Linked DNA regions of Homo sapiens. The protein of the gene in region 1 purifies or fractionates together with the protein of each later gene. This does not show direct contact. Each region holds a gene or a part of one and is shown on either strand. Other genes may lie near its edges.

The links.
Region 2: the proteins of POLR3E (region 1) and POLR3GL purify together in Homo sapiens (co-immunoprecipitation; 6 studies listed by BioGRID and IntAct, with this or other methods). This does not show direct contact.
Region 3: the proteins of POLR3E (region 1) and POLR3B purify together in Homo sapiens (affinity purification with mass spectrometry; 9 studies listed by BioGRID and IntAct, with this or other methods). This does not show direct contact.
Region 4: the proteins of POLR3E (region 1) and POLR2E purify together in Homo sapiens (affinity purification with mass spectrometry; 6 studies listed by BioGRID and IntAct, with this or other methods). This does not show direct contact.

The regions. Positions count from the first base shown.
Region 1 is NC_000016.10:22,300,401-22,307,436, reverse strand, and holds part of POLR3E (DNA-directed RNA polymerase III subunit RPC5), read right to left. Parts: intron 4,507-7,036; 5' UTR 4,469-4,506; coding exon 4,433-4,468; intron 2,282-4,432; coding exon 2,231-2,281; intron 1-2,230. UniProt on the Homo sapiens protein: DNA-dependent RNA polymerase catalyzes the transcription of DNA into RNA using the four ribonucleoside triphosphates as substrates.
Region 2 is NC_000001.11:145,959,811-145,967,693, forward strand, and holds the start of POLR3GL (DNA-directed RNA polymerase III subunit RPC7-like), read left to right. Parts: upstream 1-4,879; 5' UTR 4,880-4,958; intron 4,959-7,883. Other genes in the region: ANKRD34A (ankyrin repeat domain-containing protein 34A), read right to left, coding at 459-1,949. UniProt on the Homo sapiens protein: DNA-dependent RNA polymerase catalyzes the transcription of DNA into RNA using the four ribonucleoside triphosphates as substrates. Specific peripheric component of RNA polymerase III which synthesizes small RNAs, such as 5S rRNA and tRNAs.
Region 3 is NC_000012.12:106,352,957-106,360,766, forward strand, and holds the start of POLR3B (DNA-directed RNA polymerase III subunit RPC2), read left to right. Parts: upstream 1-4,791; 5' UTR 4,792-4,923; coding exon 4,924-4,995; intron 4,996-5,153; exon of another isoform or gene 5,154-5,266; intron 5,267-7,810. UniProt on the Homo sapiens protein: Catalytic core component of RNA polymerase III (Pol III), a DNA-dependent RNA polymerase which synthesizes small non-coding RNAs using the four ribonucleoside triphosphates as substrates.
Region 4 is NC_000019.10:1,092,352-1,100,357, reverse strand, and holds the start of POLR2E (DNA-directed RNA polymerases I, II, and III subunit RPABC1), read left to right. Parts: upstream 1-4,982; 5' UTR 4,983-5,042; coding exon 5,043-5,099; intron 5,100-6,279; coding exon 6,280-6,454; exon of another isoform or gene 6,455-6,602; intron 6,603-8,006. UniProt on the Homo sapiens protein: DNA-dependent RNA polymerase catalyzes the transcription of DNA into RNA using the four ribonucleoside triphosphates as substrates.

The DNA.
Region 1 (7,036 bases):
GCCTGTAGAATGAGCCTGGTGGAGGTATGGCAGTGCGGAAAATAGGCCCTTTCAGATCAGCTACATTCTAGCGCAAGGAGACGGTCATTTCCTAAAAGCTCACTCACACAGCAAAGCCGTGACTCCTCCCTGCTTCCTGGGCTGGGGCTGGGGGCAGTTCTGAGATCACCTGACTGGGGGTGGGAAGGCTGAAGGGCGCAGGTTCTGAAATCACAGGCCTGGCTTCCAGTCCTCATCCTTCCCCTTGCTAACTGTGGACTCAGGCAGGCACCTCGCCTCCCTGAGGCTAAGCATCCTCACCTCCCAAGGCCGCTGTGAGCACGGAGGAGGCAAACAGAGCCGATGGTGGCTCAGGGTTTGGAACTCTGGACACACGGGGGTCACTGGCACCTCCACCATCACTTTGCAGCCAGTCAAGGAAACAGGGTGAGCAGGCACACAGGACAGGCCCCATTCCCACGGCCCATAAGGGTGAACCCCAGGGAGTGGAGGCCAGGCCCTCCCAGCACAGGCTTACAACATTGCTGCTGTGGCATGCCCCAGGCCTCCGTGCCCGTGAAGGCCTCCCTGTGCCTCACGTTCTCATGTGCATCATGGGATATGAACACTGACTCTAACTGTGGGAAGGCAACATGGGGCAGAGCAGCCCAGCAGTGCCTCAAAAAGCTAAACGCAGACCCAGCAATTCTGCTACCAGGCATATACCTAGAAGAAATGAGAATTCACGTTCATCATAAAAACTTCTATGTGAATGTCCACAGTGGCATTATTTATAATAGCCAAAAAGTAGAAATAACCCAAATACCCATCAGCTGATGAATGGATAAACAAACTGTGGTCTCCCATACAATGGAACATTATTCATCAGTAAAAGATCAAATATTGGCTGGGAGCGGTGGCTCACACCTGTAATCCCAGCACTATGGGAGGCCGAGGCAGGCAGATCACAAGGTCAGGAGTTCGAGACCAGGCTGGCCAACATAGTGAAACCCCATCTCTACTAAAAATACAAAAATTAGCCGGGCTTGTGGCGCGTGCCTGTAGTCCCAACTACTCAGGATGCTGAGGCAGAATCACTTGAGCCTGGGAGGCAGAGGTTGTGGTGAGCCGCAATCAAGCCACTGCACTCCAGCCTGGGCAACAGAGCAAGACTGTGTCTCAAAACAAACAAACAAAAAAAAGAAAAGCTCAAATATTGATGCAGGCTATAGCTACCATGTGGATGAGCCCTGAAAACATCATGCAAAGTGAGAGCAGCCAATCACAGCAGGCCACATACTGCATGATTCCAGCTATGTGAAAAGTCCGGAATAGGCAAAACCATAAACAGAAAATAAGGGGAATGGTTGCCTGGGGTTGGAGGTGGGAATGGGGGGCACAGACTGATCGCTAATAGGCAAGGGGTTCCTTTAAAGGGGGACAAAACTGTCCCAAAACAGACTGTGGCGCTGGTTGCACAGCCCCATGAGTAGACTAAAATCCATTGCATTACACACTGAAATGGGGAAACTGTGTGGTGTGTAAATTCTATCTCAATATATCGGTTATAAAATGTAATAATCACCACCATAGGGTTATTGTGGGGTTAAAGAGGTAACTGAGGTAAATGCTTTCAACAGTCTGCATACGGTCAATGCTCAATACATGTTGGCCACAATGACAAGCTGCTGGCCCAGCAGCAAGGGGAGGGGGCAGAGGTAGCAACCCGGGGCCCTCGCAGCTGGCAGGACTGAGGGCTCACAGACGCTGCCATGGAGCTGCCCCTTGGAGCCTCCATGACAACAGCGGCCATCATCACTGGCACCAACTCTCTGCCAGGCGGCATCCTAAACACTTCACTGTGGACTCAGCCTGTCCTCCTGGGGACCTATGAGGCAGGCATTATCACCATCACCACTTTGCAAGTGAGGAAAGTGAGGCACAGAAGGATTAAGAAACTTGCCCACGGTCTCGCAGCTATGGTGTGATGGAGTTGGATCTCAATCCGGTCTGACCCCAGAGCCCCAGCTTTAACTGCTGCACACTTCTGCCTCTCCTGTGTTCCTTCAGTTTTCCCATCTTTGAAATGAGACCAATATTAACCCACCCACGAAAGCAAAGAGACCCCATGACACTCTCCACACCGAGAACCCTAGCTGAGGTTTCCCATCGTTTCCTGCCCGTGTTCCTGAGTCCACACCACCCACCCACACCTGCTTCTCCCCTCTTTACCTTCAAGTCCCATAATTACCTGAAATAGATACAGCTTTTCCGCCAGACTCTTGGCCAAGTACACATCGATCTGGGAAGAAGGGAAGACGACTTAACCGGGAGACTGGACACAGTGCTGACCTCCCCGGGCTATGCCAGCGCTTCCAGCTTCAGTTAAGGGCAGTGGCTCAGGGAAGCAGTTTGGGGAAGGAGGAAATAGCTCAGCTCATGCTAAAAGCAAGCGGATCCAAGGCTGCACACTGGGTATATTCAGGAATCCCTCCTGAAAGCTCCCAGGGGAACCAGGGCAAGAGTTCACCTGGTACCCCCACCCAAGTTCACAATCCCCCAGTAAGCACACATCTTCCCTGGGGCTGCACTGATCGGGAAACGTCCTACAGCCTGGGCAAATGCTCTTCTGAGAGGCAGGCAGGCGAGGGCTCACCTAGGCCTGTGCCTCCTGGCTGGGCCCTCCACCTGCCCCTCCTGGACCAGCCTGTCACCCCTTCTTAAGGGGTCTGCAAGGCCCTTTGTGACTGATGGCTCCACTTCCTTTCTTCCCAACACTAACCACCCCCACCCCGCCACGCAGCAGTTTACCTTCCTGCTTCCTAACTCCTCCTATAAACCACATGCTCTCCTACCCCTGGGCCTTTGCACATGCTTTTCCCTATACCTACAGAGCCCTTCACACATGCCTCCCCTGAGCCTTGACTGCTCGCTCCTCCAAGGACTTGGCTGAGGCACAACTTGGGCAGGAAGCATTCCAGGCCCCCTGGCTGCAGAGGGCACTGCCTCTGTCCTCGGAGTCCCTTGGACTCTTCTATCCCATCACCAACCCCCCTGTTGTAACTCCTGCTACTGCAGTGTAGATGCAGCTTAAATGCATCTAAATAACTCACATCTAATAACTTAGCAACATCCCCCAAGCAAGGAAAAACCACCTCTATTCATCTCCGAGGACCTTCTCCTTGCCCCTGCCCTTCCCACTGGAGGTCAGGCTCCGCATATAAGGAGGCTGAAGGCAGATGCAGTTACTTTTTGCCTTTTGCCTTCCAAAGGTCTAAGTCCTGGGTTAAAAGGATTCTGAAAGGTGAGTTTGACTATCAACAGCTTTCTCTAAGAAGGGAAACCTGTGCCGGCCATGGTGGCTCATGCCTGTAATCTCTGCACTTTGGGAGGCCCAAGGTGGGTGATCACTTGAGGTCAGGAGATCGAGACCAGCCTGGCTATCATGGTGAAATCCCATCTCTACTAAAAATACAAAAATTAGCCAGGTGTAGTGGCGGGCGCCCGTAATCCCAGCTACTCAGGAGGCTGAGGCACAAGAATCGTTTGAACCCAGAGGCAGAGACTGCGGTGAGCCAAGATAACACTACTGCACTCCAGCCTGGGAGACAGAGTGAGACTCCGCCTCAAAAAAAAAAAAAAAAAAAAAATTAGTCGGGCGTGGTGATGGGCACCTGTGATCCCAGCTACTCAGGAGGCTGAGGCAGGAGAATCGCTTGAACCTGGGAGGTGAAGGTTGCAGTGAGCCGAGATGGCACCACTGAACTCCAGCCTGGGCAACAGAGCAAGACTCTGTCTCCAAAAAAAAAAAAAAAAAAGGGAAATCTGCCTCCCACTGCCTGTACCCGGAGACTCCTGCCTCATCAGTCTTGCCCACAGCCCATTAGCTTCCCAGGGAAGGGGACCCTGCCCTGCTCACTGATGTGTCACAGCCCCCAGCACACAGTGGTCCAGTGAACAGCTGCTGAATGACTACATCTGCGTAAGCCTGGGAAGGAGGGACTGCTGAGCCCATTTATTCATTCATTCATTCACCAAATAGTCGCCGGGTACCTGGGTGCCAGGCACTATACTCGGCTTTGCGGCACAGCAGTGGACGGGAAAGAAAGCAATCAACTGATATCTAGGGGATGACGGGGGCTAGGCCAAGTATGAGTTACCGCCAAGGTAAGGGCAGAGAGAGGCACGGGAGGGTGCAGGAGGGGAGCTGGGTGTGGAAGGGCAGTCAGGGAAGGCCTCCCTGATGAGGTGATGCCAGATCAGAGACCTGAAGGAAGGGAGAGGTCAGCCACGCAGGGGTCTGGGGGACAGCAGAGGGGACCAGGCAGAGGGAACAGCAAGGGTTAGGGGTCCCAGAACATCAACAGGTCCCAGACTGGCCTGAGGACACATGGAAAGGACCCAATTCCACTGCCTGTAGCCCCGGCGGCAGGGGACAGAGAGCAGCAGTTACCTCCTGTACAACTGGGTCATCCTCTTCATTGGCCATACTAGAGGAGAGCCAGCCGCGCAGTCCTTCAGCTCGATCTGCAAAGGAGGGCGAGAGACTGGGACCATCAGTCGTTCAACCAACATTTCCTTGTGCCTATTCTGCAACAGGCCCTGCACTGGGAGGGGGAGCCCACAACCAACCAACTGACCTTCTTTCTACATCTACATTGAAGTCAACAATGGATGACCAACCCTATACCCCATCAGCCAGAAGAAATAAAGAAAAAAAGAAACACTCAAGCAGCGGGTGCAAGCGGGTAGACCAAGCCAACAAGTGTGGGCTGCACCTGCGGGGAAAGGCAAATGACTGGCTTTAATGGTTTCTTCTCTGCTCACAGAGAATTCACTGCCAGACAGAAGGATAGAGGTTGGCTGGTCCCAGCCATGATTAAAACACTGGAGAACTGAGGGCCCTGGGGACGCTTTAAAGAGGAGCCAGAAGTTGAACAGGAAGACAGACAGTCCAAAGCTCTCTGATATTTGATTTTCAAGCTGACTTTAACTCGAATCCTGAGTGAGATGACTCTTCTGTGTTTTTGGTCTAAAAATGACCTCTTCACACACTCTTCTGTCCTGTATTCAACACAATGACCCTATGAGGTGTGGTGATTGTCACTGTTTTATAATGAACAGACTGGAACTCAGAGATACTGTGTGCATTTTGACCCAAAGTCACATAGCAAGCAGGATGATGAACTGGACTTCAAATCCAGGCTGTCTGACCTCAGGTGACAGGTACAGGTAGGGGAGTTGAGAGGCGGGAAAGGCCTTTCTGCTGGGGAGGAGGCACGTTAGGTGCGCCTGGAAGAAGAGAGAGCTTTGGGCAAGTCATGACAACAGAGGGGAGGAGAAATTCCAGGAAGAGGGAAGGCTGTAGGTCTCCACGGGGCAGGTTGAGTATTTCAGCTGGTCTGCCCCTTCACATACCCAAAGAGAAGAGGGGTGGTCATAGGTAGGATGGTACTCAGGCACCCCCAGGCCTCAGCAGTTCCCAAACCTCTGCTCTTGGGTGAGACTAGCATGAATTTTTTTTTTTTTTTTTCTTGAGACGGAGTCTTGCTCTGTCACCCAGGCTGGAGTGCGGTGGTACGATCGGCTCACTGCAACCTCTGCCTCCCGGGTTCAAGCGATTCTTGCCTTAGCCTCCCAAGTAGCTGGGATTACAGGCATGCACCACCAGGCCCGGCTAATTTTTCTATTTTTAGTAGAGACAGGGACTTGCCATGTTGGCCAGGTTAGTCTTGAATTCCTGACCTCAGGTGATCTGCCCGCCTTGGTTTCCCAAAGTGCTGGGATTACAGGCGTGAGCCACTGCGCCCGGCTGAGACCAGCATGATTTTTGTCTGATCTACTTAACATTTGAACTATCTAATATTTATTTATTTTTAAGACATGTCTTGCTCTGTCACCCAGGTTGAAGTGCTCTGCCGTGATTTTGACTCACTGCAACCTCTGCTTCTTAGGTTCAAGTGATTCTCCTGCCTCAGCCTCCCAAGTAGCTGCAATAATTGGCATGCACCATCCGCTCAGCTAATTTTTGTATTTTCAGTAGAGACGGGGCTTTGCCATATTGGCCAGGCTGGTCTCGAACTCCTGGCCTCAAGTGATTCACCTGTGTTGGCCTCCCAAAGTGCTGGGATTACAGGCATGAGCCACCACACCTAGACAAAAGCCAAAGTCTTTATCATCCCATGTAAACCCTAAACAATCTCCTGCCCCTTGACCTGCCAGACCTCATCTCCCACAAGCCTCCTACCCTCCTCTCTGCTCCAAACCCACTTCTGGGGCTTTGTAGCTGCTCTACCCCCCCGATAACCTCATGGTCCCCCCTTCACCTCTTTCCGGTTTTTGCTCAAATGTCACCTTGTGGCTAAGACCTTCCCTCTCCAAATCACATTGCAAACTGCCTCCCCCACCCCTCAATTCCCTTCTCTGCTCTGGTTTTCTCCATAGCAGGTGTCTATCACCATGTGACAGTTTACAGCTCTGCATCTGTGCCCATCTCTATTGCCACTAAGCTGTAAGCTATGTGAAGGCAGAGATTTTGGTCTATTTTGTCCCTTGTGGTACCCCAAGTGCCTAGTACACAGCAGGCACTCAATACATGTTTGTTGTCTAAATAAATGAACCATGGGAATGCTATTTAATAGGAAGCTACAGAAGGATTTCGGGCAGAGGAAGACATGGAGCGGGTAGAAAGAGAAACTTCAGGGAAACAGCTATCGTAACAGTCCCAGAGATGGAGGATGGAATGAAAATCAGGAGTCGCATCTGGACAGTTTCAGTGCATCTCGACTGTCTGCTGTGCAGACAGAGGGCAGTGTAGAGCGGAGAGCCCAAGGCCTCACCCCATCTGCACCGGCTGCCAAGTGCCACAGATATGTCAAGCTCCTGCCTTCTCTGCAGCTGGGCAGTGGACAACTGAGAGGCTGGGGCCTGGGAGGTTCCCAAGACGCAATTGTTCTTTCTTGGCTATTGCTATGCCCTGTTGGCCTCTGCCCTGCCAGGGATCAGGGAGGCTGAGGTGCCCTGTCAGCTAGAGAGCTGGAGCTCCTTCCTCTGGATA
Region 2 (7,883 bases), on another chromosome or scaffold:
GGATGTCCACGGAGAGAGTGTGCAAAATCATGATAGGCTGTGTTTCAGGGCATACATGGAAAGCAAGGGATTGCTTCTGCAGGAGGGCAAAGACATCGGAGACTGCCCATAAGTAAGGGTTCCCTACTGCTTCTGAACAAATGCAAGAGAGTTTGGGACCCTAGCCCTGTGTGTTTATTGATATGCTGTGCCTGTAGGTACACAAGTAATCCCATATGCATGTGAAATGACCAGGGCATGAATACATGTGTGTATATACCCAGTAAATAGAGTACTTATTCTTTCTTGCTAATAAGAGTACTGTGCTTATGGACACATGTTTAACCATGTGTGGGTGCACTGTGCACCCATGAGCACATGCAAGAGATCCCTTTGTTCGTGGTGTGTGTGTGAGCTGGTTCTCCCACCTATCCCATTAAGGTCCTAATCCCCACCCTCCTTGGCTCCTCTCACTCCTCTCAGCGCCCTGGCTCCCCAGGCCCACCTAGACTCTGGAAGCCCCCCAGCAGGCGGATCTGCTCAGTCTGCATGGAGTGGCGTCTCACCAATTTGCGCTTGGTCCTGGGAGAGCCTGGCGCCCCGGCATAAGGAGGGGCAGGCAACGAAGGCGCCCGACCTCCGGGTTGTGGGCGAATGTCAGGGATGGGAGGGTGGGGACTGACGTTGAGAGGGGGTAGGAAACCCGGCCGCGTTTGCGAGATGTGGTCCAGGAGCAACGTCCCCGAGCCCCTCCGCTCCAGCAGCCCCGGACTCCGCCTCCTTCCGCTTAGCGGAGATACTGCCCCTGGCAGACTCTCCTGGGACTGGCGCGGAGAGGGAGCCGAGCCGGCTGGAGGGAGGGTCAACGGGGAGGCGCTGTATCGGCGGCGCTCCAGGGACAGGCGGCTGGACTCAGGCGAGTCAGGGCAAAGGTGTCCAGGGGTGTCCAGCTCCACTGGCTCCATGCGGCTCAGTTTCTGCCTCAGCCCTGAAGGGGGACCAGACTCCTGAGCTTCTGGTGCTGTGTTTCGGCGAGAGAGAGGACCCCCGCTAGTCACTTTCTCCGCCCATGGGGGCGGGTCCTCAGGGCCTTCGGTGCTGTGACGTCGGGAAAGACGGGGTCGACCGGTCAGGGTCAGGCCATTGAATTCGGCAGTCAAGCGCTCGATCCCCGGTCTCCCTTCAGTGGGTGGGACTGGTTGAGGAGGGGCCACTAGGCCCCAGGGCTCGGAGTTGAGCCTTTTGAGTGGTTTTGGGGGATGGCGTGGTGGTTTGGGGAGCGGCTCGGAAGGGGATGGGTCATCGGGGGGCTTAGGAAGAGGGAATTCAAATACGTCCCGCTTCTCCTCTTCTTCCTGGGCGCGAGGGGATAACATCCCACGCCCTCCTCCTCCAGCGGTCTGCAGTTGGATTTCCGAAGGCGACGTGCAGAACCCCGGGCTAGGAGAGGCGGGAGCAGGGTCCTCCACCCCTGGGGATGGTGGAGAATTGAGATACTGCCGGGTCTTCTTGGTGCCTGAGGGCGAGGTATCGGTGGTGATGATGATGACCTCCGTACCCTTGGCCTTGCAGGCGTCCAGCAGTGTGGCAAGGGTCTCGCGGTCCCCGCGGTCCAGGGCGTGGACAAGAGCCGAGGCGCCCGCGTGATCTCGGACTGAGGGGTCTGCGCCGTGGGCAAGGAGCAGCGAGGCCACCGCGGCGCCCCCACCCCCGGCGCAAGCGTGCATGAGCGCCGTGCGCCCTAATCGGTCTGCGATATTGGGGTCCGCGCCTTGCTCCAGGAGGTAGCGTACCATGCGTGCCTTGTTCTGGGGGTCGTCGTAGCGGGCCCGACAGGCTGCCATTAGCGCAGTCTCCCCCTGCGCATCACCCTCATTCACGTAGGCGCCTCCCTCCAGAAGCAAACGGGCCAAGCGTAGCTTACCCTGACCCACCGCCCGAAGAAGAGCGTGGCCCTCGGTGTGCAACATAGCTGCGGCTGGGGCGAGGGCACAGATGGAGCCGGGACTGAGACCTGCCGAGGATGACTAGGGGTATGGGGAGGGGGAGTGGCTGGCAGAGGCCTGAGGTCTCAGTGACGAAGCCGATCCCTGCAAGAGAGACATCTCATTGATAGATTCGGCAGGAAAACTGAGGCACAGATGCAGGGACCCAGCGTGGGGTGGAGGAGACCTTCACGGCATACAGTCCTTCCTCTAACTCATGCCTTTGAGCCGGCCCTTCCCCCGCAGCGCATGCCTGAGGAGGTGGGAAGGGTGCACCCGCACTGAAGGACTAGCGCGCGTGCAAATGCGTTCGTGCACGCGCAGGGATGTCCGCACCCCCACCCTCACCCCATGGCTTATCAGACCTTTCCTCTGTCCCCCTTGTCTTATCCACACTTGGGATCCCCCTTTCTAGGATGCTGAACGCCACCCACCCACATACATGCACCCTACAGTCACACATGTATTCTCATTCCTAACCTGTTTTAGCTTGCCACAACCCCAAAAATTGAGTGGGGGGAGGGAAGCAGCCTGCATTTGAGACCTAAAACGGGTGGAGGGAGAATTGGGGGGTTCTATTGCCCCTGCGATGTTCCCCATCACTCCTTGCTCTTTCCCCTCCCAGGCTGTGTGCCCAGATAGATACCTGAATGTCCGCAGAATCTCCGCCTGGCCAGGATTGGGGCCGTGGCCACGGGGCAGCCGAGGTGGCGGAGCCAGTTTCCTGGGGGCCCGCATGGCGTGGGGGGGGGGGCACCCGGATTCCCTTGGTGTCAGTATCTGCGCCCCGGCGCCGGATCCTGGTCCCTCCTCCCGGAGCGCCCCGGGCACAGCGCCGGCTCGGGAGGAGAGAAGCTTGGCGGGGGGGGGGGGGGGGGGGGGGGCGGAGCTCTGCTGTGCTATTTATAGCCTAGTCACTGCGGGTGGGGGCGTCAGGCACCAAACTGCTCCCCCACTCATGCACACATAAACCCTCAAAAACCTAGAGGCTCCAATCCTGACTTCCTTTTCTCAGCCGACCTCCCCTCAGCCCCAACAAACCTAAGTGTTCCTTAGGGGACTCCTCCGCGACCCAGACAGGGACCATCATCCAGATTCTTCGCTGAGATTCAGCAGATCCCCATTCTCCGCACTTGGTGTGTTTGTGCGCTCCTGTGCGCCAGACCTGACCTGCCATACACGGCACATGGCACACTGTGTAAGAAAGGTGTAGAAAGGCTTTTTGGATCCACAGCCGGTGTCCATACTGTGCAAAGAGAGGCAAGAGATGTGGCTTTCTTCCTGTAGTTTAATTGTGAAGGAGATCACGGTCCAGCCTGGAGTCAGACACAGATACACCCCCGCCCCATCTCTCAAAAACGGAACACCCATCGCAGAGAAACTTGGACCTCAGCTCCCTTATGTAGACCTCTTAGATAAGTATGAGGAAGGTGGATATGGGAGCACTTTTAGATAAGGCAAGGGACATTCCAGGTGCCTCCACCCCGTATTATTGTGGGCAGGGAGATAGGACAGGGGCAGGAAGAAGAGCGAACCTTGTAATACACTCTCTCACATTGCATCTCTTTAATCTCAGTCTTGCTTAGACGTCTTATTTTTTCCATCTTGCTTGACGATCTCTGTCTGAAACATTCCTTATATCTTCTCTCTTCCTATCTGTCTATTGGTCTCTCACACTGTCTCTGCCTCTCCTTGCCACCTGCCCTGTCTCCATGGTTACCATAGCTTCCATCCACATATTTTAGGAATGAGTTTGTGTCCAGCTGGAAGGCACCAAGGGAAGTGGGAGAAAAAGAAAAATCCTAAGGATTTAAAAAGTTCACTCAGGGTCCTGAGCTAATTCAGAGGCTGGAGGCCCCCCAGATGCAAGATACTGAAAATAATGTTCCCGGGGATGGGAGAGAGAGAGAAATATTTGCAGGAAGCTACCCATTTTTACTAGTTATTTCTTGGACACGTGTCAACTATGTGCCATGTGCTTTACATACACTATTTTCAATCCTCACAACTTTATAAGATAGGAACTATCATCTTCTTGTTACAGATGAGGAAACAGACTTAATAAGGTTAAGCAAGCTCTCCAAAGCTTCACAGCTATGTTTCTGTCCTATGGCAAAGACTGGGAGCTTGCCACTACACCTACAGCCTCCCAGTCTACAGGCCATTTTCTCTGACATCTGGGATGTTCTTCTTGACTAACTCCTAGATTTCATCTCCATTCTGAACCTTTCTCCCTTGTTTCTGCTTTCTGTGAAAATAGGACTCCTCCTTCCACTCTGCTGGCTTTCCCAAGGAGCTCGCAGGAAGTGGAAAGTAGTGGAAAATGCAGAAAAAGCTGGGCTCCTGCCCTGTCTCCCCAACCCTGGTACGCTGATCCCAAATCCTTCCTTTCTTGAACCCTCTGCCCACCTTCTCACAGACACGGCAGCAACCCACAGAAAAACATTTTTAGAAAAGAAGTATCCATTGGTGGTGCTGGAGAGAGGCAGTGTATGATTGAAAGGAAGGCTGGAGTAATGGAGAGACCAAGCTATGAAGCTAGAGTCACAAAAAGACTGATCCCTAAAGAGCAGCTTTTACAGAGGTTCATTTCTCCGTAGGCCCTCTCCTCCTTTGGCCTCTCTGTAGGGGCTCCCTCAACACGGTCCCTCGATGAGATATGAGTGTCACGTTCCCTCGGTGAACTCTCGCCGGCTAGTGGCTCCTTCATCTGGAGTGAGACCGGAAATAAGTGACCCCAGCTGATTCTGCAACGCCCATCTCTCTCTGCGACCCGCTTCGCAAGCTTCGGTTCCGGGCGTACTCGCTCCCTCCCTCCTTCTCTTCCTAGGCTTCAAGAGGGCGGACTTCCCTCCTCGGCTTCTCCTGCATTGGCCGAGAAAACTCACCAATAGGGAGCTCCGGGAGGCGGGCTTAGAACGCCACCGACTTGAGGAAGCCCAGTACATTTCAAGTTGGTCGCGGCTTGGGCTCCGCTTTGGGGAGGGGCAGCAGGTAAGGCTTGACCTGGTTCGGTCCGACACTTGCCAAACTTGTTCACCCCGGCCAGGCTGCGAAATAGACAACGCTTTCCGTCAGGTTGTTGGATCAGCCCCCTTCTGGCTCCCTACCGTTTCTCCCCTGGGCTTCCATTTCTGTATTGATTGTATACTAGAGAATGGCAGTTTTCTATCGCGCATGGGGAGAGACATTAAAGCAGAAAACGAGACAGCCTCTTGTATCTGTCTTTGCTATAGCATCAACTTCCCCCTAATCTATTAATATTATCCCAAGAGCCTGACAAACTCCTGTTATCTATGAAGACTAGCTGAAATGCTACCTGTAGTTTTCCTGGGCCGCCTTTCTTGCAAAATGAATTGTTCCCCCGTCTACGATAGCGTTTTGTATATACCTTTATTAGGACACTTAGTGCACTGTCTCTCTTTAACGTTTCTATGCCTTTTAGAATAGAAGGTTTTGTAGGACAGGTGCTAGTAGTTAATATATAGTGCCCAATAAACGTTAGTTAAATAGAATTGATTTCTGGTAACTAGCACTCTTTTTGGGGAGGCAGAATTTAAACTCCTAACATAACTAGGGAACAATAAAAGACAATACAGTATGTAATTAAGAGCCATTAAATTAGTGGTTCATAATATTAGTGTTTCATAATTGTTTCTACAATCTAGAGAAGGAAGAAAGCAAGGAGAACTGGAATGGTGAGGGGAGGCTTTATGGATCACAATTTCTCAAGTTTGGAAAGGCCCATAGAAATGATGTATTTATTCATTCAATAAATATTTATTGAGCACCTACTATATGCCAGACACAATGCTAAATCATGCTGATCATAGGGAATCCTCTACTAGAGCCATGCATCCTTCTTACAAACCCTATGTAGTAAATTTTTACCCAGCTTCTATGTAAACATCTTTAGTAAGGGAACTCTCTTATCTCTCTTGTAGATCATTCAATTTTTTGATACCTGTTCTTTAGTCAATATCCTACAAATATTCTAAATAAGAAATATATAGCTAAAGGAAATGCATTCCACACTTCCACTGTAAAAGAGGGAAATATGGCTGGGCACGGTGGCTCATGCCTGTAATCCCAGCACTTTGGGAGGCCGAGGCGGGCAGATCGCCTGAGGTCGGGAGTTGGAGACCAGCCTGACCAACGTGGAGAAACTCTGTCTCTACTAAAAATACAAAAATTAGCTGGGCGTGTTGGCGCATGCCTGTAATCCCAGCTACTGGGGAGGCTGAGGCAGGAGAATCATTAGAACCCAGGAGGCGGAGGTTGCAGTGAGCTCAGATCGCACCATTGCACTCCAGCCTGGGCAACAAGAGCAAAACTCCCTCTCAAAAAAAAAAAAAAAAAAAAAAAAAGGAAATCTGTCCTTTTACAGTGGAATTGGTAGCATTCTTAAAAGCAAGCCATTTCTGGCTGGGCGTGGTGGCTCATGCCTGTAATTCCAGCACTTTGGGAGGCTGAGGTAGGCAGATCACTTTAGCCCAGGAGTTCAAGACCAGTCTAGGCAACATGACAAAACCCTGTCTCTACAAAAACTACAAAAAAAATAGCCAAGCATGGTGTCTCAGGCCTGTAGTTCCAGCTGCTCAGGAGGCTGAGGTGGAGGGTTGCTTGAGCTGGAGAAGTCGAGGCTGCAGTGAGCCAAAATTGCCACTGCACTGCACTTCAGCCTAAGCGACAGAGCAAGAACCTGTCTCAAAAAAAAAAAAAAAAAAAAGAGGCCGGGCGTGATGGCTCATGCCTGTAATCCCAGCACTTTGTGAGGCCAAGGCGGGTGGATCACGAAGTCAGGAGTACAAGACCAGCCTGACCAACATGGAGAAACCCCATCTCTACTAAAACTACAAAAAAAATTAGCCAGGCATGGTGGCGCATGCCTGTAATCCCAGTTACTCGGGGGGCTGAGGCAGGAGAATCACTTGAACCCAGGAGGTGGAGGTTGCGGTGAGCTGAGATTGCGCCATTGCACTCCAGCCTGGACGACAAGAGTGAAACTGTCTCAAAAAAAAAATAATAAAATAAAAAGAACATAAATAAATAAAATGGGTATTTTTTAACCATTCATTTATTGTTAGATTGTTTCAGTTATTTCAGAATTTTTGCTACCATAAATAGCTCTTTGATGAATATCCTTTTACTTATATCTGTGACTGTATATCTGTTGATGTCTTTGGAATATATTTTTAAAGTGGGATTGCTGGATTAGGGATATAAACATTTCAAAGGCTGTTGATTTAACTGGACAAATTGCTCCCCTTGAAATATTATGTTTATAGTCTTTCCAGTGAGGTATGAGAGTGTCCATTTGAAAAAAAACTCATGACAGCCTGCTTATTATTTAAATCTTTGTCACTTTCATAGGTGAAGAGTGGTTTTATTGGCCATTCTCTCTCCTTTTTTTTTTTTTTGAGACAGTCTTGCTCTGTTGCCCAAGCTGGAGTGCAGTGGTGAGATCTCAGCTCACTGCAACCTCCACCTCCTGTGTTCAAGTGAGTCTCATGCCTCAGCCTCCTGAGTAGCTGGAATTAAAGGTGTGTACCACTGTGCCTGGCTAATTTTTTGTATTTTTAGTAGAGACAGGGTTTCTCTATGTTGCCCAGGCTGGTCATGAACTCCTGGCCTCAAGTGATCTGTCCACCTCGGCCTCCCAAAACCCTGGATTACAGGAGTGAGCCACCATGTCCAGACATGGCCATTCTCTTTGCCAGTTGCCTGTTCATGTCCTTTGCCCATTTTTTCTATTGAGATGATTTTTTAAAATTTGGATTTCCAAGATTTTAAGGGTGTTAATTTCTTGCTTTATTTATTACATGTATAGCAAATTCTACACATCAGCGTGCCCCAGGCCTCAGTGCCTGGATTTCTTATTTTCTCTGTCCACATCCACTCCTTTAGGGGTCTCACCTA
Region 3 (7,810 bases), on another chromosome or scaffold:
AGACCAGCCTGGCCAACATGGTGAAATCCCATCTCTACTAAAAATACAAAAATTAGCCAGGTGTGGTGGTACAGGTCTGTAATTCCAGTTACTTCGGAGGCTGAAGCACGAGAATCATTTGAACCTGGGAGGTGGAGGTTGCAGTGAGCCGAGATCGCGCCACTGTACTCCAGCCTGGGTGACAGAGTGAGATGCTGTCTCAAAAAAAAAAAAAAAAGAAAGAAAGAAAAAAGAAAAGAAAAGTATTTCTCAGGCCAGACGCAGTGGCTCACTCCTGTAATCCCAGCACTTTGGGAAGCCAAGGCAGGCGGATTGCTTGAGCCCAGGAGTTCAAGGCTACAGTGAACTAGGTGACAGAGCAAGACCCTATCTGAAAAAAAAAAAAGATATCTCTGTGGTGCTGTTACCAAATGCTGACTTGGCATTTACTTCTCAGCTTCTGTTGCTGCCCTCCCCTTTGGGGTGTCTTCATTAAACGTGTCCTGAGAGGGAATACGATTGAGTTTGCTCGCCACGTGTCAGTTTAGATGACCCACAAACCCCACATTAGATAGGGTTCTCATGATAAGCCACTTCATCCCTTAAATCCAGCCCACATGGCTGTCCTGGGCAGGTACCCGGCCCTATTGGTTTTGATAGGATAATAAGATCACATCCACAAAGAAAGGTCTGGGGGCATGGCAGGCAGCTGAAAGTTTTTGGACTATCCAGTCTTGCCTAAAATGCAGAATGTTCTGACTTCAAGGGCTCTCCCTCTGCTGTTGCCTTTTGAGACTGAAGAGTCCTTATTCTTTCTCTGACATTGTTTCTGGTCTTCTCTAGTTCTATTATGAATTAATTGAGACATAGAAATCAGAACCATATGTATCTTTTTTCCCAGTCTGAATGCATCAAGGTTTCAAGAAAGGAAGATAATCTTTTTCTTTTGTTTCTAGCACCTTCATGTTGAAGCCTCTCAGAGCATGGTCTAATTTTTTTTACAGGGCATAACAGTCCGTGATGGTACAGCTCCAGTGGATCTTTCTAGTGTCATCTACAGACACGTCCCTTGAAAAGCCCTATGTGAGAACCACACTCAATTGTCAGAATGTGGTATAATGTACTCTAATGCCCTCATGCCATTGCTCACGCTGTGTTTCCCTACTTGAAACGTTTTCCGCTACCCCATGCTTTTGGTATGGCGTTATGATAGAGTGGTTAAAAGCATGGGTTCTGGGGTCAAATAATTATGGATTTAAATTCCAGCTCTGCTTGGGCAAGTGTCTTAACCCCTGTGAGCCTTAGTCTCTTTACCTTTCAAGTGGGGATAATCATACTTATCCCCGGGGTTCAGCACTCAATTAGAGAATGCACATCAAGTGGTCATTGCAATGCCTAAGAGTAAACACTCGGTAAATGTTAATATTTCAAGGCCCAGCTTGGACACCTCTGCCTTTCCTTTTTCCTTGCTCTCCCTTAAACAAGATCCCCTATTCCCCCATGGCACTGGTCAATTTTTCATCTGGCTACCATAAGCCATTGTACATTAAGTGATAAGATAGTATTCCAACATGTTAACCATTTTTCCTTCTGTGATTTTTTTTTTTTTTTTTTTTTGAGACGGAGTCTTGCTCTTGTCGCCCAGGCTGGAGTGCAATGGCGTGATCTCGGCTCACTGCAACCTCTGCCTCCCAGGTTCAAGCAATTCTCCTGCTTCAGCCTCCCGAGTATTTGGGATTACAGATGTGCGCCACCACCTCGGGCTAATTTTTGTACTTTTAGTAGAGACAGGGTTTCACCATGTTGGCCAGGCTGGTCTCAAACTCCTGACCTCATGATCCACTGCTTCGGGCTCCCAAAGTGCTGGGATTACAGGCGGCGTGAGCCACCGCGCCCAGCCTTGTGATCTCTTTTCCCTAATTTCCCACCCCTCTATTCAAACCACTGGTCTTTTTGTACTAATACCTCAGGAAAAGGACATGGCAGCAGAAAACAAAGAAATGCTGAGACTGTTCCTGGCTTCTTGGTTTCAAAACTCCAGTCCCTTAGGGTATCAGAAAGAAGTTATAGATTTGATCTGGGGGAAGGACTATGAGGGACTGTGGCAGCTATGGTCTAAGGGCCAACACCGTTCAGCATTAGCCGATTGTTGCCGTATAGGACTTTGGGACCATGGCTACCAGAGCCTCCTGCTTTTGAAGAGAAACTAAAAACAATCAGGATTCTTAAAAAGTGAGTATAATATCAAACATCACCCATTCGTTGCATTTTTTCTTTCAACTCACTCATTCAACACAAATATATTCAGGAACAACTGATGGGTTAGAAGTTGGAAACACAAAGACAAACAAGATAGTTCCCGTACCAAGAGCTCAGTCTGGATAATGAGACACATAAAAAGAGGATATGGCATTGAGTGATAAGTCTTAGGTTAGTGATTTCCAAAGCATAATCACTGGAAAGCAACAGCAGGGAACTTACTAGAAACGCAAATTTGCAGGCCGGGAGTGGTGGCTCACGCCTGTAATCCCAGCACTTTGGAAGGCCGAGGCAGGCGGATCACCTGAGGTATGGAGTTCGCGACCAGCCTGGCCAACATGGTGAAACCCCGTCTCTACTAAAAATAAAAATTTAGACGGGTGTGGTGGCGCATGCCTGTAGTCCCAGCTACTAAGGCGGCTGAGGCAGGAGAATCACTTGAACCCAGGAGGCTGAGGTTGCAGTGAGCCAAGACCGAGCCACTGCACTCCAGCCTGGGTGACAGAGTGAGACTCTGTCTCAAAAAAAAAAAAAAAATGCAAATTTGCAGCCAGCGCGGTGGCTCACGCCTGAAATCCCAGCACTTTGGGAAGCCGAGGCAGGCGGATCACCTGAGGTCAGGAGTTTGAGCCCAAACTGGCCAATATGGCGAAACCCCGTCTCTACTAAAAATACAAAAATTACCTGAGTATGGTGGCACGCGCCTGTAATCCCAGCTACTCGGGAGGCTGAGGCAGGAGAATCGCTTGAACCTGGGAGGGTACAGTGAGCTAAGATTGCACTACTGCACTCCAGCCTGGACGACAGAGTAAGACTCCATCCCCGCCCCCCACCAAAAAAGCAAAATTTCAGCCCCAATTTACCAATCAGAAAGCTGAGATTAGTTTAACAAGCTCTCCAGGTGATTCTGATACACCCTAAAGTCGGAGAATCACCTTGATAATGGAAAGCAAAGAAGACTTTGGCACAGACAACCAACACACTTGAGCCAACCTTGAGATCCTCTGCCATCTATAAATCACTTTCACAGTCCCTTCTAGGCTAGATGCTAAATTGGTTGCAATCTGGTAATGCACAATGATGAGACACAAGTTGTATCTTGTCTCTGTAATAAGTAAATTGTAAGAACTTCAAAGGCAGGGTTGATTCTACTTTTGGTGTTTTTTCCATTCTTCTCGTATTTCAGATATCAGTGCAATACTTAGAAAATACGGCCGGGCGCGGTGGCTCACGCCTGTAATCCCAGCTACTCGGGAGGCTGAGGCAGGAGAATGGCGTGAACCCGGGAAGCGGAGCTTGCAGTGAGCCGAGATTGCGCCACTGCAGTCCGCAGTCCCACCTGGGCGACAGAGCGAGACTCCGTCTCAAAAAAAAAAAAAAAAAAAAAAAAAAAGAAAATACAAGTACTGAAATTTAAGTAGCTCTTTAGTAAATAAGAATAATTAACCTGGTGCAAGGGTTCTACCTTTATGAGGGAGAAATTGGAAAGCATATATGTACTTACAAATTTTCATAACTTTTCTTATCGTTGTAAAATATACATAAAACTTAGCATTTTAACCCTTTAAAATGATGTACAGGTCAGCAGCATTAAATACATTCACACTGTTGTGCAACCATCACCATTCTCCATTTACAGAACTTTTGCATCTTCCCAAACCGAAACTCCGTACCCATTAATTAATTGGTGCATTTTGCCTTGTTTTTTCTAATAGGATTTTTCTTTCTGTTGATTTGTATGAGCTCATTTTAAATTAGAGAGACCAGCCCTTTGTCTTCTGCCAATTTATTTTTTATTAATTCTATTTGTTGGTGATTTTTTAAAATCTGTTCAGAAAATTAAAAATTTTCCGTGGAATCATAAAATCGTGTTTAGATTATAAAATCCTTTATGATTTGACTGTTGCCGTCTTGAAAGTCTTCAACATCTCAATGTTATGAATATCTGCACTTACATTTTCTTCTAAGTTTTTGTTAACATTTCAATATTTAATCCACAAAAGATTCACTTACATGTATTTTTTCCCCAAATGGGTAATCAGCTCTTCAAACATTATTTACTGGACAGGCCATCCTTCCCCTACTAACGTAAATGTCATCTTTTCATATTAAATTTCTCCATGCGCTGGGTATTTACTCCTACATCTTCCATCTAGTGCTTTTGAGAATTTTCAACACTCTTCCATTACACGCATGTACCATCATTTATTTAATCAATCTTCTATTGGTAGGCATTTGGGACGTTTCCTGCTCTTCCATACTAAACAATGCATAGAATTTTGGACTACATTAAATAATTCTCTGCCTCAGTGGTTCAAGTTGCGTAAATTATGCGTTTACACTTTTCTTCGGATTACTTTTAAAATGACAACCACTATGTTTTGCTGGTCTCAATTACCAGAGAATTGGCAAGAAACCTGACAGCTGGGGCTTAGGATTCCCTGCGCCAGACCTCCGAGCTACACCAGAGGGCGTACTTTCCTTACTCGGCCTCGGCCACATCCGGGTTCCACCGCAGATTCGGGCAGGGAGCGGGCGGAACCTTTCTACCGCGTCTCTAGCTAACACGCACGGCGGGGACAGTTTAGGCCTCCGCGCACCGTTCGCCGGGAGTCTTGCAGTTTGCTTGGTGCAGGGAAGGCGGGCGCGGAGGTTCTATCTGTTTCTTCCTCCTTCGTGAGCAGCATGGACGTGCTAGCGGAGGAGTTTGGGAACCTGACTCCGGAGCAGCTGGCGGCGCCGATCCCGACTGTAGAGGTCAGTGCCAGGCACGCAGGGAGCGTCAGGGACAAGGATGCGCCCTGAGGGGGCGTTGCCCGGAGTGCTCGGGCCGCCAAGGGGGCGGGCTGGCGGTTTGTGCGCATGCGCCGGGCTTCTGCGCATGCCCAGAGCGTCGCGCTTGCGAGTCTTTTTTCCAGAGCCGGCCTCCGCGTGCGCGAGTGAAGGCTGATCCCAGAGGAGCTGTCAGCCGCTGCGGGGGCCGAGAAGCCCCGCTGCTGGCTCTAGGGTTGGAGCTCTTCCAGCATAGGTGTGCGTGGGGAGGACTGACCCTCGCACTTACTGTGGGGGACGTATTGCATGTTTGCAGTCTTACAGAGGACACGGGGCCAGGGAGCTCAGGCCATTTGCATGAGGCACCACAGCCGGCTGTGGGGGTAAAACCAGATCGTCTGAATTCCAAGCTAGTCATCTTTCCTTTTAACTTGAAGTTCCAGTTTGGGTTGCAGGGGAATTTTAAACGCCCTCAATATTTACTAAAGAATTTGCCTGTGTGTTTTCTGGGGGAGAGACTCCACAGCTTTCATCAGCTTCTCGGAAGTTAAGGACAGCTGCCCCACAGCGAGCTGCCCAGTGAAGTGCGGCTGTCGACATATTTTGTTATCTGATAAGGCACATTTTGTAATCTCTCTGAGCCTCAAAATCTACACTGACGTGGAATAGGGAAGTGGAGACGTGGCCGGAGAAGATAGCAAAGGAGAGATTTCAGGGAAAGAGAACAGGATACTTGAAACCTCCTCGGCAAGACCATTGGATGTTTTTGAGGAAGGAAAGTAAATCCAGTAGTATTAGAGTGAAGAAAAATAGAGGAGAAGAGATAAAAGACAGGGTTAAGTAAGGGTCTTGATTATGAAAAGTTTCAATAAACATCTGACAGAGCTTGGACTTTGTCTTGGAGCAGAGCTTTTGAAGGGTTTAAGCAGGAAAGTGACATGATCAGTAAGTCTATCGGATTATAAGAACCTCCTTGGCTAGGCGTGGTGGCCTGTAATACCAGTAGTTTGGGAGGCCAAGGCGGGCGGATCACTTGGGCTCAAGAGTTTGAGAACAGCTTGGGCGACATGGCAAAACCCTGTTTCTACAAATAATACAAAAATTAGCTGGGTGTGGTGGCGTGCACTTGTCCCAGCAACTCAGGAGGCTGAGGTGGAAGGATCACTTGAGCCTGGAAGGTCGAGGCTGCAGTGAGCCGTAATTGTGCTGCTGCACTCCAGCCTGGGTGACTGAGACCTTGTCTCAAGGAAAACAAAACAAAACCTCTTTATAATAGTTTGACAAGTTAAGGAAGTTGAATTAGCAGTTCCAACAGATTCAGTCTATAAGTGCATGCAATAGGCTGCTGATCATCAGGCAAAACTATTTTTTTTTTTTTTTTTTGAGACGGAGTCTAGCTCTGTCGCCCAGGCTGGAGTGCAGTGGTGTAATCTCGGCTGACTGCAACCTCTGCCTCCCGGGTTCAAGCAATTCTCCTGCCTCAGCCTCCCAAGTAGCTGGGATTACAGGCGCCCACCATCACCGCCAGCTAATTTTTGTATTTTTAGTAGAGACGGGGTTTCACTGTGTTGGCCATGCTGGTCTCGAACTCCTGACCTCGTGATCCACCGCCTCGGCCTCCCAACGTGCTGGGATTACAAGCGTGAGCCACCGTGCCCGGCTGCAAAACTGTATTTTAACCGTGAAAAGTGAATATCAAAGAGCCAGCATTCACTGAGCACTTGCTAATGTGCCAGGTTCTGTTTAACCATAACATGCATTATGTTATTTAATCCTCTGAAATAAGTACTATTTTCACCCCCATTTTGCCAGAGAGGCCCAAAGATGTTAAGTAAATAGCCTTGCATTAGAAGCCTGGTAGTGGCTAATCTGGAATTTGGACTCTTGTCAGTCTGACTCGAGTCTTCATCCCTAACTGCTATCGGACCGCTTCTCCAGAGAGCTGAAGAAATAAGCCTGGGAGATTTCTATTTCTTATCTGAATTTACACAGCTATGAAGTGAACAGTGCTATAATTCCAGCCTTCTGATTGAAGAATAACAGTTCCTCTTCCTGCACTCTGTATCCAATCCACCATCACCTCTAAAAAGTCCTGAGTTCTTAATCTATGCATATCTGAAACTTCATTCCCACCGTTTTCCAGCCCAGAACGACTGTCCTCTCTTACTTCCTAACTGGCCTACCTGGCACCTGACTTGTCCCAATCCAGTCTGTTCCTTGCTCTGCAGCCAGAGCTGTCCGTTTAAACACACAAACATGGTTATGTTGCTCCCTTGGTTAAAGTTCTTCAATCTCTGCCTATTGCTCTTAGGGCAAAATCTAGTGTTTACCATGTTTGTAATAAATTTCCTCAGTCTGACCAGTGCTTACTTCTCTAGTCTCTTTTCCCATGGTTCCCCCCTCTCCCTCCCCTGAGATCTTTCTACTCTGCTCAGTTTCTTCTGGATCGCTCTCCCCTTCCTATTTGTAGATTAAATCCCACATATCTATAATATAACTTCCCTAGGAAGGCCTTTCCTGATTCTCCCAGAAGATGGTAGATCTCTGCTACTTGCTGCCATTTCCTTTTAAATTGAGATATTAAAATATTTACTTAAACTTTCCAACTTCAGTGTTTTCGCTGCAACTTTTTCTAGTTAGGAGCTCAGTTTTACTTGAACTGGCCATGCCTGGTGTGTATTTTTTTGTGCTTATGGTAGCACAGCAGCATGGTAGTATGGTAGAAACAACACAAGCTTTGGAGCCAATTAATCAGTTACTTGTTGAATAAATATTTGTCAGTGTTACTGAGTACTTACCT
Region 4 (8,006 bases), on another chromosome or scaffold:
TTTGTATTTTTAGTAGAGACAGGGTTTCTCCATGTTGGTCAGGCTGGTCTCAAACTCCCGACCTCAGGTGATCCGCCTGCCTAGGCCTCCCAAAGTGCTGGGATTACAGGCGTGAGCCACCGCACCCAGCACAGAGTATTTTCATTGTCCCCAAAGGAAGCCCAGACCCCATCAGCCTTCACTCTCCATCTCCTCCCCTAGGACCTGGCACACACACATCCCCTCCTGTCTCTGTGGATTGGCCTGTCCTGGACATTTCATGGAAATGGGATCACACACTGCGTGTTCTTTTGTGCCTGGCTTCTCTCACTGAGCATGAGGTCCTCAGGCTACATCCACATTGTGGCCTGTGTCAGAGCCTCATCATTCCTTTTCATGGCTCAGAAATATTCCAGTGTGTGGAGGGATCACATTGTGTTTATTTATTCATCTGTGGATGGACATCTGGGGTTTTTTTTTTTGAGACAGAGTCTCACTCTGTTACCCAGGCTGGAGTGCAGTGGCGCAATCTCAGGTCACTGCAACCTCCGCCTCCCAGGTTCAAGCAATTCTCCTTTCTCAGCCTCCTGAATAGCTGAGATTACAGGCATGCGCCACCATGCCCGGCTATGGGCTGTTTTCTCTTTTTGAGTTTGTAAAGCCGTACAAGTGTTTGTGTGGGCGTATGTTTTCATTTCTCTTGGGTGTATGCCTAGGAGTGGAATTGCTGAGTCATATGGTGACTCTTTGTGTAACAGTTTGAGGATCCACCAGACTGTTTGTTGTTTTTTTTTTTTTGAGATGGAGTTTCACTCTTTTTGCCCAAGCTGGAGTGCAGTGGCACGATCTCGGCTCACTGCAACCTCCACCTCCCAGGTTCAAGCGATTCTCCTCCCTCGGCCTCCCAAGTAGCTGGGATTACAGGCCTGCACCACCATGCTCGGCTAATTTTGGTATTTTCAGTAGAGACGGGGTTTCACTATGTTGGCCAGGCTGGTCTCGAACCCCTGACCTCAGTTGATCCGCCTGCCTCAGCCTCCCAGAGCGCTTGGATTACAGGCGTGAGCCACTGCGCCTGGCCGACCAGACTGCTTTCTATAGCGGCTGCACCATCTTACATTTTCACCTGCCCTGTGTGTGGATCATGGCCTGACTTCCGGGCCTCTGGCTTTGCTGTTATCATCCAGGCCGCCCCTGGCTTGGGCTCAGCCTCTCAGTCCACCCCTGCCCCCAGATTTGCAGGTCACTGCTTGGTCTTTACTCCAGATGCCCTTTCTTGTGTCATAAAATCCACTCCTGAGGCCTGTCCGTCTCCTGACCCTCCCCGCCCCATGTATCTGCCCCACATCTCCAATTCCTCTCCTCCCTCAAATCCGTCCTGCCAGGCACTGGCCCCCTTCCCTGAGTCACAAGCAATGTCTGCTAGGCGAATCCCTGCTCAGTCCTCAGGCTGACTTGGCGGTGGCATCACATAGCCACTCCCTTCCCTCTGCCCCTAGACACCTTCCTCACCAGGTTTCCAGGAGACCTGGCAACCTCCTGCCCTTTATCCTATTTAGGGAACACTTATGCAGTGCTGGTGTCAGGCGCCACTCTGTGTACATTGCAATTATTAGCCAATTACCCTACGAAGTGGGTGCTGTTCTTGTCCCTGTTTTACAAGGGAGGGGAGAGGGGACGCACAGAGAGGTTGAGTAACCTGCCTGAGATCACACAGCCAGGTCTGCAGCTCAGGGGCTGCTCCAGTGTCTGTGCTGAGCCTCCCTCCCCTCCTGCTGCTGCCTCCCCTCCTTCTCCGGGCTTCTGAACACCAGCAGGGCTGGACTTACTCTCCTGGACTCTGCTCTGCTCCCAGGACCTGGTCCAGGCTCCCGGCTCTAATCTTCACCACGTGGCCACCCTGCCTGCACGTCCATCCCCCAGACCTTGCCCTGAACTCCAGAGCTCACCTCGACCTACACGCCTCCACCCTCCCACCCCTCTTTTCACTGCTCACAGGGACAGCTTTGTTCCCTTTCTCCCTCTTTTTCTCGCCCTGTGGCACCCTCCCCGCTCTGTGCTTGCCCCTACCGTAGTTGGAGCCACCCCAACCTGTGGCAAGTTTGCCTTCCCACTCCCTCCCTGGTCTCTTGCTTCTGCCCTGGCTCCCAACAGTCATTTCCCAACACAGCAGCTCCAGACATTTTACCCTGACCAGCAAGGCTTCATGGGACCTGCCCCACCTTGCCCTCTGACCCCCTCCTGCCCCTTCCCTGCCAGGAACACTCCAGGTGAGGCACAGCCCCAGAGCCTCTATCCTGGCTGTGCTGTCTGCCTGATACAGCTATCCCCAGGCAACCCCAGGTTTCCTCCCTCTCCTCTTCTGGTTTTTGTTTGTTTTCTGTTTGTTTGGAGACAGTGTCTTGCTCTGTCGCCCAGGCTAGAGTGCAGTGGCGCAATCACAGCTCACTGCAGCCTCAACCGCTGGGCTCAGGCGATCCTAGATCTTCCCACCTCAGCCTCCCGAGTAACTGGGACTACAGGTGCGCCCACCACGCCCAGCTAATTTTTAAATTTTTTTGTAGAAATGGGGTCTTCCTGGCCGGGTGCGGTGGCTCACGCCTGTAATCTCAGCACTTCGGAAGGCCGAGGCAAGCAGATGATCTGAGGTCAGAAGTTCAAGACCAGCCTGGCTAACATGGTGAAACCCCATCTCTACCAAAAATACAAAAAAATTAGCCAGGTGTGGTGGCTCACGCCTGTAATCCCAGCTACTCGGGAGGCCAAGGCAGGAGAATCCTTTAAACCCAGGAGGCGGAGGCTGCAGTGAGCTGAGATTATGCCACTGTACTCCAGCCTGGGCAACAGAGCGAGACTCGGTCTCAAAAAACAACAACAACAACAAAAAAGAAATGGGGTCTTCCTATGTTGCCTAGGCTTGTCTCAAACTCCTGGCCTCAAGGTGAGAAAGAAAAGTTAGGTAGTTAGATAAGAAAGCCTGCACAGACCGGGCGGGGTGGCTCACACCTGTAATCCCAGCACTTTGGGAGGCCGAGGCGGGCGGATCATGAGGGCAGGAGATGGAGACCATCCTGGCTAACACGGTGAAACCCCGTCTCTACTAAAAATACAAAAAATTAGCCGGGCGTGGTGGCAGGTGCCTGTAGTCCCAGCTACTCGGGAGGCTGAGGCAGAAGAATGGCGTGAACCCGGGAGGTGGAGCTTGCAGTGAGCCGAGATCCTGCCACTGCACTCCAGCCTGGGGGACAGAGCGAGATTCCGTGTCAGGAAAAAAAAAAAAAGTAGCCCCTGACAGCCCCCCAAAAAGAATCTCAAATATCAGTGTAAAAAAGTCCGTGACTTACAACTAAAAATTACAAAACTACAACAAAGGGATCCTCCCCTCTCAGCTTCCCAAAGTGCTGGGATTACAGGTGTGAGCTATCGCGCCCAATGGGATTTTTTTTTTTTTTTCTCGATGGAGTCTTGCTCTGTCACCCAGGCTGGAGTGCAGTGGTGCGATCTCGGCTCACTGCAACCTCCGCCTCCCGGGTTCAAGTGATTCTCCTGCCTCAGCCTCCCGAGTAACTGGGAGTACAGGCACCCACCACCAAACCTGGCTAATTTTTGTATTTTTAGTAGAGACAGGGTTTCACCATGTTGGCCAAGCTGGTCTGGAACTCCTGATCTCATGCTCTGCCTGCCTCGGCCACCCAAAGTGCTGGGATTACAGTGATGAGCCACCACTGCTAATGGGATTTTTGCTTGAATCTATCCTCACTGTATTCCCTGACCTCCCCATGTGATACTGCAGTTCTCCCATTCTCCCCATGTCACTTAGCCTCCCTGCTCTTTCTTCTTCCGTAGCTTTGTCACTTTCTAACGTTGTTATTTATTTTATTTTATTTCATTTCATTTTATTTTTGAGACAGAGTCTTGCTCTGTTGTCCAGGCTGGAGTGCAGTGGCACGATCTTGGCTCACTGAAACCTCCACCTTACAGGTTCACGAGATTCTCCTGCCTTAGCCTCCTAAGTAGCTGAGACTACAGGCACCTGCCACCTGGCCCAGCTAATTTTTTGTATTTTTAGTAGAGACGGGGTTTCACCGTGTTAGCCAGGATGGTCTTGAACTCCTGATCTCATGCTCTGCCCGCCTCAGCCTCCCAAAGTGCTGGGATTATAGGCATGAGCCACCGCGCCCGGCCACGTTATTTATTATATTTTACTAAATCCTGTCTTTATCTGAATGCAAGGGATACTTGGCCTGTTTTATTCACCATCACTGTAGGTTGCTGAGTAAATGTTGAATTAACGAATGCATCACTGAATAAGTTACTGATAGCCTGCACACAGGAAGTGTTGGGCTGGGGTTCTCCGTGAACCTGGGGAAGTGAGGAGGTTTGCAAAGACAGGAAGAGTCTGGGGTGGGGAGATACCCAGGCTAGGCTGGGGAGATACCCAGGCTAGGCTGGTGGCGCTCAGGGGAGAGGACAGAGGTGAGGGGACTTAATAAGCACCTAGAGAGATGCCTAAGACTCTCAGTTAACCGTCTAAAGTAGGGACACTTTATTGCCATTGCACAGGTAGGGAAACTGAGGCCCAAGGGAATTAACCCTGACCTGGCCAGGAGCCAATGGAGGAAACCCTGTACAGTTTGATGCACAAATATTTATAGAGTTCCCACTAGGCTCCCAGACCATCCCTAGGAGCCGAGCTGCCCCTTGACCCCATCCAGGCCTCAGTTTCCCCGCTCACACTTCGCCCCCGCCTCGTGGGATTCTAAACTGTTGCTCCAAGGTGGGAGTTGAACGGAAACTACAACTCCCGAGAGGCTGTGCGGCCAAAGACACACGAGAACTACGGAGGCGAGAGACTCGCTCAGCCAACTGCCGCTCTCGTAAGGCTCGGGCTGCCCTTGGCGCTGCCGATCCGAGACGTTGCTGCATTCAGGCATTCGCCGACGACAGACCAGCGCGGGGCGGGGTTAGGCGGAGGGGGCCTGATTCGGATTCGGCGCAGGCGCAGTCCGCGCGGGTTCTCGCGCGGAGAAGGGGTGCGAGCGGCGGCGGCGGCGGAGGCTGCCATGGACGACGAGGAGGAGACGTACCGGCTCTGGAAAATCCGCAAGACCATCATGCAGGTGAGCCGCGCCTGGTGTTGGGGGCGGGGGCGCGGGCGGCGGGTGTAGGGGCCCGAGGTGGGGTCGAGCACGGCGTCTCCTCGTACTCTCGTCGGAGCAGCAGCGATGAAGGGCCGGGCCGATACGGGAGGCCCAGAGGTCGCCGGGGATACCAGGCGCTGGACCCGACCTGAGCCGGCAGCGGGGAAGGGAGGGGGTTTCGAGACGTCTGGGTGCGGTGCTTAGGGGTGGGTGGGCGGCTTGGGCTGGTGCGGCGCGCGTGGCGGCGAGAGGAGGAGGAAGCCGCGAATGGGGACGGGGGGCGCCCCCAGACTCTGCCCTTCTCTGTGATTCAGCGTCGCTATTTGTCCTTGCGTCCTGAACCCCATGGAGTCTTCAGCATCCGAGGCTGGCAGAGTTGGTGGTTGGGAAGCAGCGGGCGAGCTGGGGCTTTCGATGGGGACGTGGAGCTCGGAACCCGTGCCTTGGGGTCTGGGGCAGATGGAGGCCACTGGGTCGAGTCCGGTTTGGAAGCCGGGCACAGGCCTGAGGACCTGCGGTTCAGGGTATTGCCTCAGCCATTGGGGCCGTTTGAGAGCTTTTGCTTTGTCTTGCTTCCCACCCTTTGCCCTTGTCCTCAGCGAAGCCCCCCGCAGCCTGATTCTTCTTTCTCCGATCCTCAAACATTGTCAGCCTGAAGTCACATCTGTTTCGGTCCCTGTCATTTTTTTTTTTTAAGAGATAGGGTTTCATTCTGTCGCCCAGGCTGCAGTGCAGTGGTGCAATCATAGCTCACTGCATCCTTGAACTGGCCTCCAGCAACCCTCCTGCCTCAGCCTCCCTAAGTACTGGGATCACGGGCGTGAGCCTCCGCGCCCCGCCTTTGTCCCTGCCTTTAGGGTAGCTCTGCAAAGTGGTTTGGAGGGCTTTGCTCCCTGCCAGGTTTCTGTGAGGCTGGGTGGACAGACGGTCTTGGTCAAGGCTGGACATCTCTGGGAGCCTCTCAGGATCATACTGGTCCCATCCTGTGGTGTGAGGCTGTGGGGGCCGGGGTGGCTGTCATGGAGCACACAGTGAGTGTTCATCCCGTTTGCTGTTCACCTCTGTCCTCTGCAGCAGCCGCAGGTCTGACTTCCGGGTCACGAGCTTTGGCCGCCTTCCTCTCTCTGCCCTGGGGTCAGCTGGTTCTTTCTCTCTGCAGCTGTGCCACGACCGTGGCTATCTGGTGACCCAGGACGAGCTTGACCAGACCCTGGAGGAGTTCAAAGCCCAATCTGGGGACAAGCCGAGTGAGGGGCGGCCGCGGCGCACGGACCTCACCGTGCTGGTGGCCCACAACGATGACCCCACCGACCAGATGTTTGTGTTCTTTCCAGGTGAGCAGCGGGTCCCGGGGGAGTTCCGGTGAAGCCACCAGAGCACCTGCCGAGGAGCCGGTCGCTAGCACCCACCCCCACTCGCCTGGTGCCCAGCATTTGTCTCTCTGCCCAGTCTGGGAGGAAAACTCCCCTCCCCTTCCTTGCTGTGGGTGATGCCGTTGATCTCTGACCCCTCTCATGCTCAGCTTCTTTCTAGTTTCCCTCTCAGTCCCCTTCTCTCTTCCTGCCAACGAGGAGAGTCACAAGGGCCTCCCCACTCACCCCCAGCCCCCCATGTCCTTTGCCCTAGTGTCCCTTGGCTCCCCCATCCTGGCCGTTGGGTGCACTTCCAGCTTCTTGGCCTGGCCCAGGAGGCCCCGTCTGGGTCAGCGCAGCCTCCTTGTGAGCTGCGGCCCCTGCCCGCCCCAGCCCATTCCTCCGCACCCCATGCCCCCTCTCCCCTGTCAGCGTCCGGTACTCGTCCCTCGAGCTTGTGCTCGGGCCTCTTTTCCCAGGACCCCTGGGACCCTCGGTTTCAGCACCTGCTTTGCGGAAGTCTCCGCACCTGTCTGCCTCCCTAGTATGGCTCTAAAGCCCTCAGCGGTTGGGGGATTGCAAGCGCCTTAGGGGCGCAGCCCCACGCCCAGAATTAATCAGTGGGGTGACGGAGCACGTCTGCCAACCGGACCTGGTGACGCTGCTGGGTTTTTTTGTTTTTTTTTTGTTTTTGTTTTTTGAAAAAGAGTCTCAATCTGTCGCCCAGGCTGGAGTGCAGTGGTGCCATCTCGGCTTGCTGCAGCCTCCACCTCCTGAGTTCAAGCGATTCTCCTGCCTCAGCTTGAGTAGCTGAGATTACAGGCACCCACCACCACGCCTGGCTAGTTTTTCTTTGCATTTTAGTAGAGATGAGGTTTCACCATGTTGGCTAGACTGCTTTCAAACTCCTAATCTCAGGTGATCCGCCCGCCTCGGCCTCCCAAAGTGCTGGGATTACAGGCGTGAGCCACCGCGCCCAGTCTTTTTTTTTTTTTTTTTTTTTGAGACTGAGTCTCCCTCTGTCACCCAGGCTGGAGTGTGCAGTGGCGCAATCTCAGCTCACTGCAACCTCCACCTCCCAGGTTCAAACAATCCTTCCACCTCAGCCTCCCAAAAAGCTAGGTTTACAGGCATACACCATCTCACCTGGCTACTTTTTCTTTTTGTATTGTTTATTAATTAATTAATTAATTTTTTTGAGACAGAGTCTTGCTCTGTTGCCCAGGCTGGAGTGCAGTGGCGCAATCTCTGCCCACTGCAAGCTCTGCCTCCCGGGTTCACGCCATTCTCCTGCCTCAGCCTCCCGAGTAGCTGGGACTGCGGGCGTGGGCTAATTTTTTGTATTTTTAGTAGAAACGGGATTTCACCTTGTTAGCCAGGGTGGTCTCGATCTCCTGACATCGTGATCTGCCCACCTTGACCTCCCAAAGTGCTGGGATTACAGGTGCGAGCCACCGCGCCCATCCTGTATTGTTAATAGAGACCGGGTTTCACCATGTTGGCCAGGCCGGTTTAGAACTGTTGACTTCAAGTG